Linked DNA regions of Homo sapiens. The protein of the gene in region 2 interacts with the protein of the main gene of each other region in a biochemical or structural test. Each region holds a gene or a part of one and is shown on either strand. Other genes may lie near its edges. The genes, in order: DRD2 and NEFM.

The links.
Region 1: the proteins of NEFM (region 2) and DRD2 form a complex in vitro, tested with the Homo sapiens proteins (one study listed by BioGRID).

Annotation. Positions count from the first base shown.
Region 1 is NC_000011.10:113,409,378-113,416,646, forward strand, and holds the end of DRD2 (D(2) dopamine receptor), read right to left. Parts: intron 6,235-7,269; coding exon 6,044-6,234; intron 5,085-6,043; coding exon 4,998-5,084; intron 3,507-4,997; coding exon 3,179-3,506; intron 1,544-3,178; coding exon 1,350-1,543; 3' UTR 228-1,349; downstream 1-227. UniProt on the Homo sapiens protein: Dopamine receptor whose activity is mediated by G proteins which inhibit adenylyl cyclase. Positively regulates postnatal regression of retinal hyaloid vessels via suppression of VEGFR2/KDR activity, downstream of OPN5.
Region 2 is NC_000008.11:24,908,886-24,917,005, reverse strand, and holds the start of NEFM (neurofilament medium polypeptide), read right to left. Parts: upstream 3,246-8,120; 5' UTR 3,213-3,245; coding exon 2,133-3,212; intron 2,020-2,132; exon of another isoform or gene 1,709-2,019; intron 1,402-1,708; coding exon 1,277-1,401; intron 1-1,276. UniProt on the Homo sapiens protein: Neurofilaments usually contain three intermediate filament proteins: NEFL, NEFM, and NEFH which are involved in the maintenance of neuronal caliber.

The DNA.
Region 1 (7,269 bases), on a different chromosome or scaffold from region 2:
ACAGGCAATGCCAGTGCATCCAAGGCCACCTTTTCCACAGAGCCTTCTCTGCCCTGGTGGGTAAGAGGGCAAAGGATGAGTCCTTCAGAGGAAGCAGGAGCTGCAACAGGGGAGGTGGAGCAGTGGGGGCAACCTGGCTTCCCTTGGGTTAGACCCTGCAGACACAGGGGTCTTGCTATACTTGAATGCCAAGCACAGAAGTGGCACTGCTGCCTTCTACCCAGGGGTCCTGGAAGGTGACTCGTCAAAGTTTTATTAGTTTGGTGCATGGATAGTGATGTTACAGAGTCTAGGCCCCAGGGGCTCTCCCAAGCTGCAGCTTCCCCTCCTTCCTCAGGGCAGGGCCAGGCCAGGCCAGATGGTTTTCAGCAGCCTCTTAGCCGTGGGCTCCTCTAAGGCAGAGGCAGTGGAAGGGAAGGGAAACAGGAGAGAGGAAAGGCCAGAAGGAATAGAAAAGGAAAGTGGTTTTGCGTCAGAGTGTGGCAGAGGCAGTCCCTCAAAGAACCTCTGATGTCCCCTAGCCCAGGCCCAGATAGAGTTCCAGGGCCTGACCTCCCTGCCAGGCCCCAGGCTGGCCAGCATGTGCTGTGAGAAGGGATACATTGCAGGGCCGTCAGAAGGCAGCAGGGTGGGCTAGGCCAAGGAGTTCCTCTCCCCATAGACCCTCCTGGGCCCTTCAAGATGAGGGCTCCTCTTCTCAGAGCATGTGGAAACCACTTGGGGAGCTGTAACGGGGTGAGGTGGGTCCGGACTAGCCTGGAAAGTAGAGGTCCACATCGGGGTGCGGGAGGGAGCTAAGGTTTTTGGCTTGGGAATCTCTGGGGTCCAACCTGCAGTCTGGTATTTACATGGGTCTCCCAGGACTGAAGTTGCCTGGCTCCTCGGCAAGAGAGCTTGCTTGCCTCCTGTGGGCCTTGCAGGGTGTGAACTGTCCATCTCTCCCCACCGCCTGCTCCACGCCAAGCCCCACAAAGAGAAAACTCAGCCTCTGGGCCCTGACTCAGGCTCCAGCAACCCTAGAGCCCCAGAGGAAGGTCAAGGAAGGCGGCTGCATCTTTGGTGCCAAGGATAGGGGGACTGGAGGTGGGAGGGGGGACTCTATGAGCTGCCCCTGAGCTGGGGGGCCCAGCCCCAGGGCTGGTACCATGCCCAGCTCACTAGCACTGCCCTGGCAGAGTGAGGGTGTGCGGGCAGTGAGGAGCATGGAGCCAAGCGAACACTGCAGGGCCTGCCGGGGTGAAGAGGAGGCCGATCCACCCAGGCCTTCCTGCTCACGGTTCGCAAGGGTGAGGCTGGCCGGCCTGGGCAGGGAGGTGGGAAGCAGGCTGCTGTGCGGGCAGGCAGCAGAGTCAGCAGTGGAGGATCTTCAGGAAGGCCTTGCGGAACTCAATGTTGAAGGTGGTGTAGATGATGGGGTTCACGGCGCTGTTGACATAGCCCAGCCACGTGAAGGCGCTGTACAGGACAGGCGGGATGTTGCAGTCACAGTGTATGTTCAGGATGTGTGTGATGAAGAAGGGCAGCCAGCAGATGATGAACACGCCTGGGGGAGAGGGCATGGTCAGGCTGGTCCCCAGAGCCGGGGAGGCACGGCTGGGAACACCCACACCCAGTGCGCCCTGGCTCGTATGCCAAGACGGTGGGCTGTAGCCACAGAAGCACTGTAGGAGGAGTCCAGGTCTTGGATCCTAGACCTGCCTCTGACACCCATTTGCAGTGAAGTATCCCTTCAGCTCCTTCAGCCTCACTTCCCTCATTTGTCCCTTTCCCACCTCCTAGAAAAGGGTACATGGTTTAACAATAAATCCAAAAGGTTACCATTCTGACCCAGGTTAGCCAGTAGAAATGGAAATATCTACTCTACTTCCAGGTCATCTTTGAGGGCTATAGACCCATGCCACTTAGTTCTTATAGCATCCTCATAAGGTACATAAGAAAAACACTCACAACAGCTCTGCAATATACCCAAGGTCATTCACTCTTGAGCAGCGAGGCTGAGAGCTGAACTCCGGTCTATCCAGGTCCCCAGATGATCTCGCTCTAGCCTTCCCCCAATTTCCCCAGTCTTGGTGGGTACACCCTTGCTAGTCCCTGCCTTGAACCATGCCCTCTCACCCAGGGCAGCCACCTACCTGCTCTGCTCACCTAACTCAGGTGCACTTTTTCCAGGACCTCCTGCACAGGTGTGATATTTATCCTGGAAGCAATGTGTACATGGAATGCCCTACAGGCACAGGAGGCATCCCTGGAGACTGAATGGTGTCTGGGAAGAGTAGGGCCACAGAGCTGAGCCCCTATGGACTGCAGCAGAGGGCCTGGCTCCAATCCTAGCCTACCATATCCCAGTCCCATGATCGTGAGTAGTCCCATGGGATCAAGTGCTCTCATTCATAAAAGAAGGGAGGTAACAGCTGCCCCACTCACGCCCCAGGATCATCCGGCAGTCAAAGGGGATTCAGGTGCTTCCTGGAAGACAGAGTCACAGGGGACCCTCCTTTTCCCAGCCACCCATATCAGTCCACCTTTTGGGTTTTGACCTTTACTATGTGGTTTTCTAGACTTCTATTGAAAAATCCTGCTTTATGGACAGGGATGCTTTTCATTTAGATTGGGGGCCACTCCCCAACATCTCATTTATTTTTCACAGCTCTGGTCCCATGGAGTCTTGTTTGAGTGCAAGTGAACTGAATTTCCCAATTCCTCAAAAAGAGCAATAGTAATAAAAACCATAATAGTGACACTTACATATGGATAGTGCTTTGTAGTTTAGAAAATGCTTTCACCAACTGATTGCCATGACAGCCCTGAGAAGTAACCTACTCTACAGATGAGGAGCCTAGAGAGAGAAAGTGACTTTCCTGGGCACATAGGCCCATGAGGTTCTGGTGCCAGCATAATAGACTAGTCAAATTTCCAGACTCTGGAGTCAGACTGCCTGAGTTCAAACCATGGGTCCTCTTGGTCAGGTTTTATAACCACTCTAAAACTCTGTTTGCCCATCTGTAAAGTGAGCACAATTACAGAATCTACCTAATAGGGCTGTCTGTATGTCAATGGGCTTGGCCTGTGCCTGAGGAAATGCTAGCCCCATGATCCTGCAGCCATGGTTAGGAAGGACATGGCAGGGAATGGGACCTTTCACAGACCGGGCTGTGGCCAGCAGCCAGGGCCGACTCACCGAGAACAATGGCGAGCATCTGAGTGGCTTTCTTCTCCTTCTGCTGGGAGAGCTTCCTACGGCTCATGGTCTTGAGGGAGGTCCGGGTTTTGCCATTGGGCATGGTCTGGATCTCAAAGATCTTGGCAATCTTGGGGTGGTCTTTGGCATGCCCATTCTTCTCTGGTTTGGCGGGGCTGTCGGGAGTGCTGTGGAGACCATGGTGGGACGGGTCGGGGAGAGTCAGCTGGTGGTGGCTGGGTGGGATGGGGCTGTACCGGGTCCTCTCGGGTGGGCTGGTGCTGGAGAGCATCTCCATCTCCAGCTCCTGGGCTCGCCGGGCAGCCTCCTGCACCAGAGGCAGAGGGCTCTGGGTAAAGCCGGACAAGTTCCCAGGCATCAGCCACCCATCTCACTGGCCCCTCCCTTTCCCCCTCTGAAGACTCCTGCAAACACCACAGGGTCACCCTGCCAGGGAGGCAAGGATGTCACTGAGGCATGGGACCCAGGACCCATGGCAGCCCCTGCAGGATTGCCCCTGTCCTTTTTCCCATGGCAATCCTCATGCAGCCTCAATACCCCACTTCTGTTCTGCCAGGGCTGAATACCAGGGACTTGTCTCTCATGGCCTGAGCAACACTTACTGTTAGCAAAGTGCCAGGTGCCACAGTGGCTGCTGGGGTCAAGAGCTGATGATGTTTGGCCCTGCCTCCAGAAACTCATGTTCCGACTGCAAAGAGGGTGCCCACCCCTGTTCTCCCTGTCAAACAAGGGGCCCAGTGCTCCCACTTCATGGGTACCTGCACCTGCGTACACACGTGGGCTCCATATTCTCCTGGATAGACTAATCTAGGTGCCAAAAGGCTGACCCCTGGGGCCCCACATCTTCCCTGCTGGGGTGACCTAGAGAGCCCTGGCATGGATCCACTCATGGCCTCCTGGGTTCTTCCATAGGTTCTCTTGTTTGAGGCCTTGGAGGTGTTAGTCTGAACTTCTAAAGTGCAGCCTCACTATGTGCCTAGGTGGCATGACTGGGCTGCTGCCTTGGCCCTGACTCTGAGGCTCTGTTTTGGCACCTGCCTCATAAACAGCTTCTTAGAGTCCTGCCCTTGCAGTGCAGGTGAAGGCAGGACACCAGACCTGGATTTTGTATGCGGCCCTCTGTGGGTTCTCTGGCCCTGTTCTCCATCCCTCTGGAGGATGGAATGCCTGCTGCTTGCATGTTGGTACAGCTACCACCTGGCAGAGGCTGGGGTCTGCTGTGCTTCCGCACCTGAGGGCTCTATGTACACAAACTGCTCCGCCACCAGTCCCCGCAGCTGCTCTGCTGCGTCCTACCCCAGAACCTGCCCATCCATAAGGCAGCTCATGTCAGTGGAAAGAACACAGGTGTGGATTTCAGAGTCACACAGGTCTGGGCTTAGTGTCACCAACTCTTGAGACGGGTGAGTTGCCTAATCTTTCTGAGCCTGTTTCCTCTTCTGTCAACTGAAGATCGGTTCGATCAAAGAGACTTACCTCCCGGGGTCGTGGTGAGGATTTGATGAGATAATAGGGATATGGTAGATGTTTGAGAAATGTGAATAGCCATTATTATCATTTTTATTACGTTGGTATGGCCAACCATTTTCTCGTACACATCCATGCCTTGCAGAACCGAGGTGTCTCACTTCATGCCTGCTTGGAGGTGTGCACGGTGAGTCTGCCTTCAGCTGAGGCAAGGTGGGGGTTTCTGGGGTGCTTCTCCCATTGGCCAGCTTCTGAGGTCTCAGAACCATGGCCAGTGGGCTTCCCTAGGGGCAGAAAGACCTGGCTCTGGGTCCCTGGCCTGAGCACTTACCACTCTCCGCCTGTTCACTGGGAAACTCCCATTAGACTTCATGATAACGGTGCAGAGTTTCATGTCCTCGGGGTGAGTACAGTTGCCCTGTGGAGTGAGCCAGCACATGGGTCACACAAAGTGGTGGGGATGGAGGGGGGACAGAAACCCAAAGTGCAGCAGTCCATGGAACTCAGACTGGGCAGAAGGGCTCAGAGATCAGGAGGGTGGGGGCCAGAGGAGGCAGTTGGGGCAAGGGGGAAGGCTGGAATGAGACAAAAAGTGGTGGGTATGACGAGGAACACAAGGACCTGGTTTTTTATGGAGCACCTGCTAAGGGCCTGGCACTGTGCTAGGCACACTCACGTCCCTTCTCACGTGGAATCCTCAAGACCACCCTGTGAGGCTGGTATTTTGATTCCCATTTAACAGATGAGGAAACAGGCTCATAGAAGGTAAGCAACTTGCCTAAGGTCACTCAGCAAAAAAAGTGTCAGTGACAGGATCTGAACCTGATGCGTCTAGCCCAAGAGCTCTTGTTCCTTCTGTGCCCACACACTGTCTTCCTTGTGAAGGACTGAGTGAAGGGGAGAATTCACAAGACATCAGGGGGGAAATGAAAGAGAAGCACAGGAGAGACATAGTGGAGAGGAAGTCAGGAAAAGTGATGTGTGTTTGGAGGGGAGGACAGAGAGTACGGAAGGTAAAGGAAAGAGGATGGAGGAGTCAGAGGGAGCTAAAGTGAGACAGAGAAACCAGAAAAGAGGAAGAGAGGAGCCCACGGGGGTACCAAGCAAGAGTTGCCGCCTTCAGTCACAAAGATCTCCAAGCAAAGACTTCCCCTTGTTATTTAGTGTCATGGACCCTGCCTCCCTCTCCTGGAGACTCAGATTGCTCCACTGAGGTCCATGCCTTCAAAATCTGCCCTTGCCCGGCTCCTGGGAATTCCTTTAGCCTAGACCTAACCCTTGCTGAGGTTTCCCAAGCCCCCACCTGAGCATAAGATGAGCCCTCTTGGTAATGGTTAGGTGGGGACCCTTGGAGTTGGTTGGGGGGTGTCTTGAGACCTTTAGTGGAGCCCTCAGGTGGGCCCTGAAAGCTCGGCTGCTGCGTTTGGTGTTGACTCGCTTGCGGCGTCTGCGGAGGACAATGTAGATCTTGATGTAGACCAGCAGGGTGACAATGAAGGGCACGTAGAAGGAGACGATGGAGGAGTAGACCACGAAGGCCGGGTTGGCAATGATGCACTCGTTCTGGTCTGGGGGAGGGAGAGCCCGGGCAGGCAGGGAGTCAGCGGGCCCACCGGCCATAATTCCACAAGAGCCCATTCATGTCCTTCCAGGAACAAGGAGCGATTTTACAGAGAATATGAACGCAACTAGATGTTTAAGGCTGCCTGGTCATCTTAGATATACACAAACGCACAGCAGATACCAGAGTATTAAAAACACGGTTGTGAGCAAAAAGTTAAGCTGTGATGATGGACTGCTCCCAAGTCTTTCCATTACTATTCCCTCATTACTTGGTCATTAGTTTTGCCATGTCTGGGCATAACAAGTGAAGCCGATGTATCCAGAAAGAATGACACAAGAAAACTTTTAAAAGAGTAAACCATCTTTTTAGTCTGACCTGTGTATTGGGAGAGGTTGGCCACCTTTTAATGTTTGCAGCAAGATAACTTGGCTCTGTCTGTTGAACTCACTTGTGTTCCTATGTGTTTCATATGTTTGCGTGCCCTTCTAGGTCTACCAGACGCCTGTCCTCTATCTCAGGGCCTTGTGCATTAATCCAAGTATGTTTAGTGTTATTCCCACTTAGAATTCCTGTGATGCTTATAATAGATACCGAACCACACATTTTCAAGGCTTCACTGTATCTTTTGTTGTTACGATCTCCAGAGGTGCACACCTGCCATCGCTCTTGCCTCCCTGATGAGAGGAAGTTCCACGCTGGCGGGGGCTTTGTGTTGCCTCTGTCTGAGACACTCCTGACTCTGCCTCCCACAGAAATGGGCATGTGGTCAGCTTACCTCCTATTCACTTCTAGCTTTCCTGCTCCAGGTGGCTAAGGCCTGACCTGGGTTTAGCAGGCCCTGAGGGCTGCAGCTTCATTACAAAAATACTATTGTCAGGAGTGGATGGAAGCCCAGTAGCCTCCGCCATCCCATGTTCATGTGCACATATACACACATGCAGTTTGTGAAGCACGTCTTGCCTCTTCAACTTAATAACCAAAGTTGAAAATTCCCAGACATACCCCTGAACCATTATCCCCACTCCTCATCCAACTCCGT
Region 2 (8,120 bases):
AGCTTCATTACATTCTGGGTATTGTGGTAGCTACCTTTGAATAAATAGAATTACATAAGTAGAATATTCTATGAATTCACTATAATACCTGCTATCACTTACTGGCATATTACATTATACTCAGTGACAGAGAAAGATTCTCCTGGACTGCCAGACAGTTGCCCCCTACAATGACTAACCTTGCCCAATAGTCCACTAACCACACCCAGCTACTAAGTCTTGGCCCTGCAGTAGAGATCCATTAGGTACAACATGAATATGCTGAAAAACTTGTTAGTGGCCAAATAGCAAAAAACAAAAACAAAAACAAAAAAACAAAAAGCCATAAACAAAACGCCCCCAAACTCCAAAGCCAAACAGCCTTTCTGAGAGTAGTCACTTTCTTAAACGTTTAGATTTTCAGGTGTATCGAGTTATAAATTTGTTGATAATTTTTATCATAAAGTGTCTATTTAATGTAGTTATTCAGCTTTCCTGAAAAGAGAGATAGCTCTGTAAATGCAATTTATTCTCGTTATATTATAACTACCTTATTGGTAGCAGAAAAATTTTAATCAACGATTTTGTCCTTTGCGCTTAGTCAACAGCAAGGTCACTTCAGTTAATAGACCTATAACCTATCTCACTATCTATAAAACGATCATATATATTTGTGTCTATATATCTAGATTTATATGCATATGCACATATGTGTATCTATAGATCTAGATTAATATCATACATGATATATTGATATAATTTATACTACAGTCTAGCATAAAATATAATACATATAAATTATCTACATATATAAAAGAACTATATCTATATTCTATCATTCTATATCTATTCTCAGCCAGATGATGGCAATAGTAAGCTATATAACAGAGAAACAGAGAAATAGAACGTCCTGGTGTTTGTCCTTGACATTATACATTTGAAAAGCTGAAACCACTAGATGAAATATTAGAAACCAAAACTCTGTTCATGCTTCCAGCATTTGAAAACATTTTTCCATAAAAAGTTTAAGCATGTGCATTGAGATTAATCTGCACCTCCTTTGTGTAATTCAAAAACCTTTTGTTTCTACTAGTATTCATTCTTTTAAAGCTGCATAAAAAGAGATAAAACTACACTTGCAATTCTTTAGAATAATTTCTTTTTAAGTAAGCAAGATAACCAGGTGCTGAGTTGATGCCTGCACCCTGCCTGCTTTAACTTAAGTGGTGGAAGCTCTGCCGGAACAGCCTCTGCACTGCGGTTAGTGTTCCGGCCACGCACGTAGTAAGCATCGTACCTGTACGCAGCGATTTCTATATCCAGAGCCATCTTGACGTTGAGGAGGTCCTGGTATTCGCGCAAATGACGAGCCATTTCCCACTTTGTGCCCCGAAGCTCATTTTCCAGCTGCTGGATGGTGTCCTGAAACAGACACAGAGAATCTCCCCAGACTCATCCTTGCAAACAGCAACTTCCTTCGCAAACCACTTGCTACCCCTTCCCCCTGGCCTCCTCCCGTCTCCCTCCACTTCTGCAAACCTCGCTGACACCTGACTCCCAGCCCCCCGTCCCACCCCCTTTTTCTTTTAAATCTAAGCGATTCTCAAATGAACATACAAGATCAGTAAGACAATAGGACACTTCCTGGGCACATCACGCACGGAGACCAGTGGACTTAGAACACGTCTCAACAGGACACAAACATGCATGGGGAAACTCCATGGCTGACCTGGCCATTCCCATCTGAGCCCTTTGGGCTGAAGCCAATTTTGAGAGCTCTTCCGATCACTGCCGGAAAAGTAGAGAATACACGCGTTTCTGCATAAGCTATCCTAAAGTTGCTGATTTATCCACTACCGAATTCATCCCTCCTGCTTTAAACGTGCAAGCGTGCAAAATTAGAACTGGAAAAGATGCACGTTTCTGAAAAAGGTCAAGACCCTTAGCAGCTGGGGCAGGTGGGTGGGGGCGGAGTGTGGAGGATGAGATGGGCGAGGACGCTGATCCGCAAATACCCTAGGTCTGCGGCGCGCGTGCTCTAGCGAGCGGCCACCAGGGAGCGCGGCGGAGAGGGCGCCTGGGCACGAGCCCAAGTGTCGGGGGCGCGCGGCGCTGGCGCTGGCGCAGGCTGGCCGCGCAGCCGCGGTTCCTACCTGGTAGCTGCTGAGGTCGTGGTTGTGGCGCTCCTCGATGTCGCTGAGCTGCCGCTCCAGGGACTCCTTGGTGCCGCGCACCGACTCTAGCTCGATGCTCTTGGACTGCAGCTGGCGCCGGTACTCGGCGATCTCTTCCTTGGCGGAGCGGATGGCCTCCTTGTTCTGCTCGGCCGCCTCGGTGAGCTTGGCGTAGCGGCATTTGAACCACTCTTCGGCCTGGTGCATATTCTGGTCTGAGTGGCTTTCGAGCTGGGAGCGGATTTCCTTCAGCGCCGTCGAGATGTCTGTCTTCAGGTAGTCTTTGCGCTCCACCGTGATGTGCGATGCCTGGATCTGGGCCAGAAGGTCGGCCACCTCCTCCTCGTGGTTGCTCCGCAGGAAGGCCACCTCATCCTGCAGCGACTGCACCTTCTTGTCCAGCTCCACCTTGACCAGCGACGCCTCCTCGATGTCTTTGCGCAGCGCGCGGATGGCCGCCTCAGTGTCGTCGCGCAACCGCGCCTCCTCCTCAAAGCGCTCCTTGAGCCGGTGGATGTCTTCCTCCAGGTGGTCCGAGTCCAGCTGCACCTGAGCCTTCTCGTGGTTCACCATCTCCAGGGTGGCGCGCAGCTCGCGGATCTCCTGGTCGTACGCGTCGCCCAGCTGGGCGTGCGAGGCCTGCTTCTGCCGCAGCGCCTGGATCTCCGCCTCAATCTCCTTATTCTGCTGCTCCAGGTAGTGCACCTTCTCTATGTAGCCGGCAAAGCGGTCGTTCAGCCCCTGCAGCTGCTCCTTCTCGTTGGAGCGGGACAGCTTGTAGTCGCCGCCGGGTCCGGAGCCGCCGTTGAGCAGGGACGAGGACTGGCTGAAGTCAAGGCTGCTCTCGGCGGAGCTGAGCATGGCCGAGCTGTAAGCGAGGCGCGGGGCGAGCATGCTGCGCTTATAGGAGGAGGACACGGTGCTGGGCGAGCCGCGGGACCACGACTGCGAGCGGAAGCCACTGGACGGGGAGCCGCTGACGCGGCTGAAGCTCGAGCGGGTCTCGGTTACCCGCCGGTAGGCGGACGGGTTGCCCAGCGAGTCCAACGTGTAGCTCATCTTGGAGGCCTTGGGGCGTGTGGCTGTCACAGCGTTCTGCCGGCCTCGCCGCAGCCCATTTATAGCCGCGGCGCTGGTCCCGGGCCAGGGCCCCGCCCCGTGGAGGCGGCGGCCGAGGAGGCGGGGACTGCGGGCACCGGTCGGGGAGGAGGGGAGGGGGGCGGCTGAACGGTGATTCAGCGCCCGCTCCACGTGGGCCCAGGCCGCATGGGAACCTGGACTTTTCTGCCCTGGGCCCAGCCCCTCCCCCAGGTCCCCTTTCAGTCCCAGGCTACTTGTAGCCGGGCATTCGCCTTCTTTCCATTTCTCACCTCCCGATTGCGTTTCGCACCCTTGGTGCGAATATCGCCAGCGCCCTTTCTTTGTCACTGTCCCGCCGTTCAGGCAGCGCTTCCCCGACCCCGTGGTCCCCTTGTTCTTTAGCCTTCTACCCTCTTATCCTCAAGGCTTTCTCTTATTTTGCCCTTTCCCTGATACTTTTTTCTTTACCCATCTTCTGTGCTTAATTTCATCCCCTTCTTTTTTGGCCCCTCTTCTCCTTCCTACTCTGGCCTTTAGTCCAGTTCACCCTGCCCTTCTCTCAGCCCCTTCCTCGGAGATCCTTTTCTTCCAATCTTTCCTTCTCCCCGTCTCCTCCCTCCTTCCCCTTGCATTCCCTCTTTTCCCCTCCCCCACCCTCATCTTTTCTTGCCTCCCTCCCCTTCCCCCACCCCTTGTCTTAAAGCAGCTGGAGATGAGCGCCGAGGAGCTGGGTCTAGAAGACAAAACAAAACAAAAAAAAAGACTTTGCGGAACGGTCTGCCTGAAGGCTTCGGGAAGGGGACAAAGAGAACAGGCCGGGGTAGTTATTTGTATAAAAAGTGGGATATGGCGTTTTTAACGTTTGGGGGACGTCCGCAGCTTCCGCAGGGGCAGAAGGTAAGGCGCTTGTGCTCGCTATGGCGCCGGCAGCACCAAGGACAGCGCCCAGGTCGGCGAGTGGGAGGTGCAGCCACCCGGGGGGCTTGTCACCCAGCCTGGCCTGTCAGGTTGGCAGGGGGCAGGGGGTTCCCTTCCCCCTCTTCTCTCCGAGTAAATACAATTTAAACCTGCCTGTAGTGACTATCTTTGCAGGAGCGAAGCTGGAATCACAGGCTAAGACTTCCCTGCAATGCAGGGTTGGCACAATGGACAGATCGCAGATTTTGAAAACAACCAAAATTCATTAAAGTCAGTTAACAGAAATATATACTTGTAGCCCAGTTTGAGTTTTCTAACATATGGTGGTATAGGAAATGAAGAGATACAGGGCCTGAAATGTGAAGGTCAAATACTCCTTGGAAAGGAGAATTTGAAATCTGTTGGGATGAAAAGTCCAGGGAAATATAGTTTTTCTTAAGTTTGGACACAGACAATTGCCTTGTCATCTTTCGGTTCAGTATTCCCTATGTGTAACTGCAATGATTGAAAAGGCATCTGAATTAACTTTAAATTGATTTAAAAGTTGCGGAACAGAGTCACCACAACCTTGAATAAAATCAGATGTTTTCCCTTCATTTAAAATGTAATATATTTTTCGCTTTAGATTTTAATGATTGATTTGGAATAGATTTTCTATATCATTAAACATGTTTATGCAAACAAGAACTCTACACAGACTTCTTGCTGTCTGGTGTACTCCTGTTAAAATGTCCCTTTATTTTGGGTAGTGCTTTGGGGGTAATTCAGGTTAAAAAAGTTCAGAATACTACAAGATAAAGTGAAGAAGAGATTGCAGAACTAACAACAGCGCTGGGGCCACAGGTACAAGTGACTGAATGTGCAACGCTTGCTATGGGTGAGAAGAAACTACTGCTTATAAAAAGTAGGGACTCCAGACCGAAATAGCTTCTTTTCACAGCATGTTTCCTTAAGTCCCTGTTTTATTAAAAGACAGGATCATATTCATCAGTAAGTAATCAGGAAAGGGGTGGGTTTCTAGAGGTTTTATTTTTTATTTTTATCAGCTCCCTTGGCCCATCTGTATTAAAATAGAAATAATGTTTTAAACAGGAGGTGCTAATTTTGGGAGTTACTTTGGTTTATTAATATGAAACTGCAGTATCGCAGGCCATGTAGGAGAAGGATGTTCTAGTTTGCTGAGAGACCTTAGGCAAGCAGAGCCCATCCATGTCTTGAGTTGTTGAGAGAGACAGATGATGGAATGAGGGGACTGACTTGTGAATACTGTAAAAACAGGATTTTCTGGTTTTATGTAGATAAATAAAGGCAAGGAGAAAGAAAATTCCCTGCCTTCTGTAAAGTATTGCGGATGTCAGGCTGGACTCAGCAGGATACCATCTAGATAAGGCCAAATGCTAATTATGCAGTAATTTTGCCTTTGTTGCTTATTACTTTCTGCTTTTATTGAAATATATAAAAATCCTTGGCAATTTCATGGTGCACATTCACTGCAAACTCTGCAATGAGAGTACATGGTTAACCGGCAGCCTTCTGCTGTTAATTTTCTTTAGGGCTTTGGAAACGAGATGACTCTGCAGAGAGACATTTACAAGGAAACACATGTCTAACTTCACAATTACCCAGTTTTGCCTTGTATCTGAAGTAGCTGAGAAATTGTTCAGCTTCCAGCTGGTTACAGAAGGAGGAAAGTGTTGCGTACAAACAAAATAAGTCAGTTACTCAGGCTACATCTAGTGCCTATAACTTAAAATTGTAACTTCAATGTCACATGATATATTGTTCAATCTGGGCACTACAGGATAATGCAAAGAATTAAAACAGTTGTTTTATTAAGAAAAAACAGTTCCCATGGCTTAAAAAATGATGGATCCAGTTTCACATTTAGCAAAATGTTTTCTTTTATATTAAACTCTTCCACTTTAACTACTCTTCCTAAAGGTGATTTGAAGGTTATACCCATCAGTAAATTTAGTATGAAAACTTTTTTTAAAAAGCTATAAAAGATGTTTTTCCCTTTTTGTCTCATAGTTTTGAAGAATATTTACCATCTTAATAGTTTTCACAGAAAGAAATGCTTTTGCATTTTTTTAAACCCTAAGAACACTAAGGCTATGAAATCTTCTCAAAATATTAAAAAGAGAGAAAACAATCATGGCAACTCACCCGGATTAACCACACTGCATTCATGGAATTAAGTTTGACTACGATACTTTTGTAATTTATTCTAAATAGAAAAGTTTCTCATATGATTTAGATGTAAGACATTTTAAATGAAATTATCTCTGAATTGTTGTTTCATAAGCTACAGTCTGTTTTGAATCACTTTATAGAGAAATACAAGGCATGCTCCAATCTATATGTTCCTTCAGTAGGGAAAGTGAAAATGTTAACTTTGCAGCTAAGAGATGATAGCCACTGTCAGGTTTTGTAGGGTGTCATCTAATACTGGGAAAATATCATTTGCAAAGGTGGTATATTTACTGGGTCATAAAATAAAGATAAAAAATAAGGAGTTAGGCATTTTCTCCCATCTTTCCCTATTTCCTTACATTTCTTCTTTTAAATAGCATTTTTGGATATAAAAAAATGCAAGGAGGATGGGATGTAGGAACTGGATAGCAAGAAAGATACTCCAGATGGACAACGTCACTTTCAAATTGGTAGGCTGAATCCATCCAAGATGAGATGATCTGTACTTTCTTTCAACCTATTGTGTCTTGAACTTAATCCGTTTGCCTGGGATCTGGTTCTAGAACTCATAATAATTATTTATAACCTGTCCTCTGCTAATTGTTTAAGGGGTTGTTGATGTAGGAAGCTAGGGACTTAGTCTGCCGAAGCAGGAACACAAGAAAAAGGAAGCTATATTACATATTTCTACTTGATCCTCAGGATGTCAAACTTTAAAAGCAGTGTTGACTTTTGATTTTGTTGTTGTCAAGAGTTGAAAGCAAAATAAAAATATTCTCAGGGGAGAAAGACTGTTTCTTGTCAGGGAAATTGGGATGTATATGTATGTCCCTATTGTCTTTGATCAAAACAAATCCATCTAGACCACAGTGTTCCTTTTCTGTCATTAGGCCACTGAAATGGTGTTTGTTTCCCTTGCCAAATATTTTATTCTTTGAATATTGCCTTCTATTTGTCAGTTACTGTTATGATGAAGTTAATTGAAGTATTTACAAAACTTAAAACATTTAATCTTTATTATATTCCAAATGTTAAATTAATCAGTTTTAAAATTCTATATCTGGAAATTTCATGTGTGTGGTGGGGGAAAATTTAGCTTTTGGCTTTAACATAGCTTGCTGATTTTTTTGCTGTGTAATGCTTTCACCTCTCCACTGTGAATCCTTTCTGTGAAAGCCAGGGGAGAAAGATTTAGAATTTTAAAAAAGTACTTAATAGAGCCTTGGTAAAAGTGACTCTAAAAATAAAGTTCAGTAGATGCATAATAAAAGAGTACTCCTGTATTAATTTTCAGCATGTTTTTAACTGAACCCATTAGCTTTACCTATAAAGCAGCAACAGATGTTGATGATATGCACTTGAATTTTGAAAACCCTGCCTTGCACGTAACTGCACCAGTGCAGCTATGAAATATTTATGACATATTTTATCCCAAGCTTACCAAGGCCTGACTTAGCAAGAGACATAATTCTTTTATTAGAAACTCTTAATTAAAATGAGCTTCGTAAAACTAGAGCAGATCAATGATCTTTGGACCAAATTTCTGAAAAGAGCTAAACCTGGGAACAGAAAGTCACAAAGAAGCCCCACCTAATAATTCAGTCTCATTGTCCCAGGACTGGGTGATTTTTTTTCAATCTCTGCAAATTTGAAAATCAATATTCTTTCATAATCCTTTGAAAATGGGCTCACTGTCATAGCTCTGTCTTGTCACTTAGCTTATTAAGAAGAGCATCTATTTTAGAATACTTAACTCACTTTTTTGGTTAAAATTTA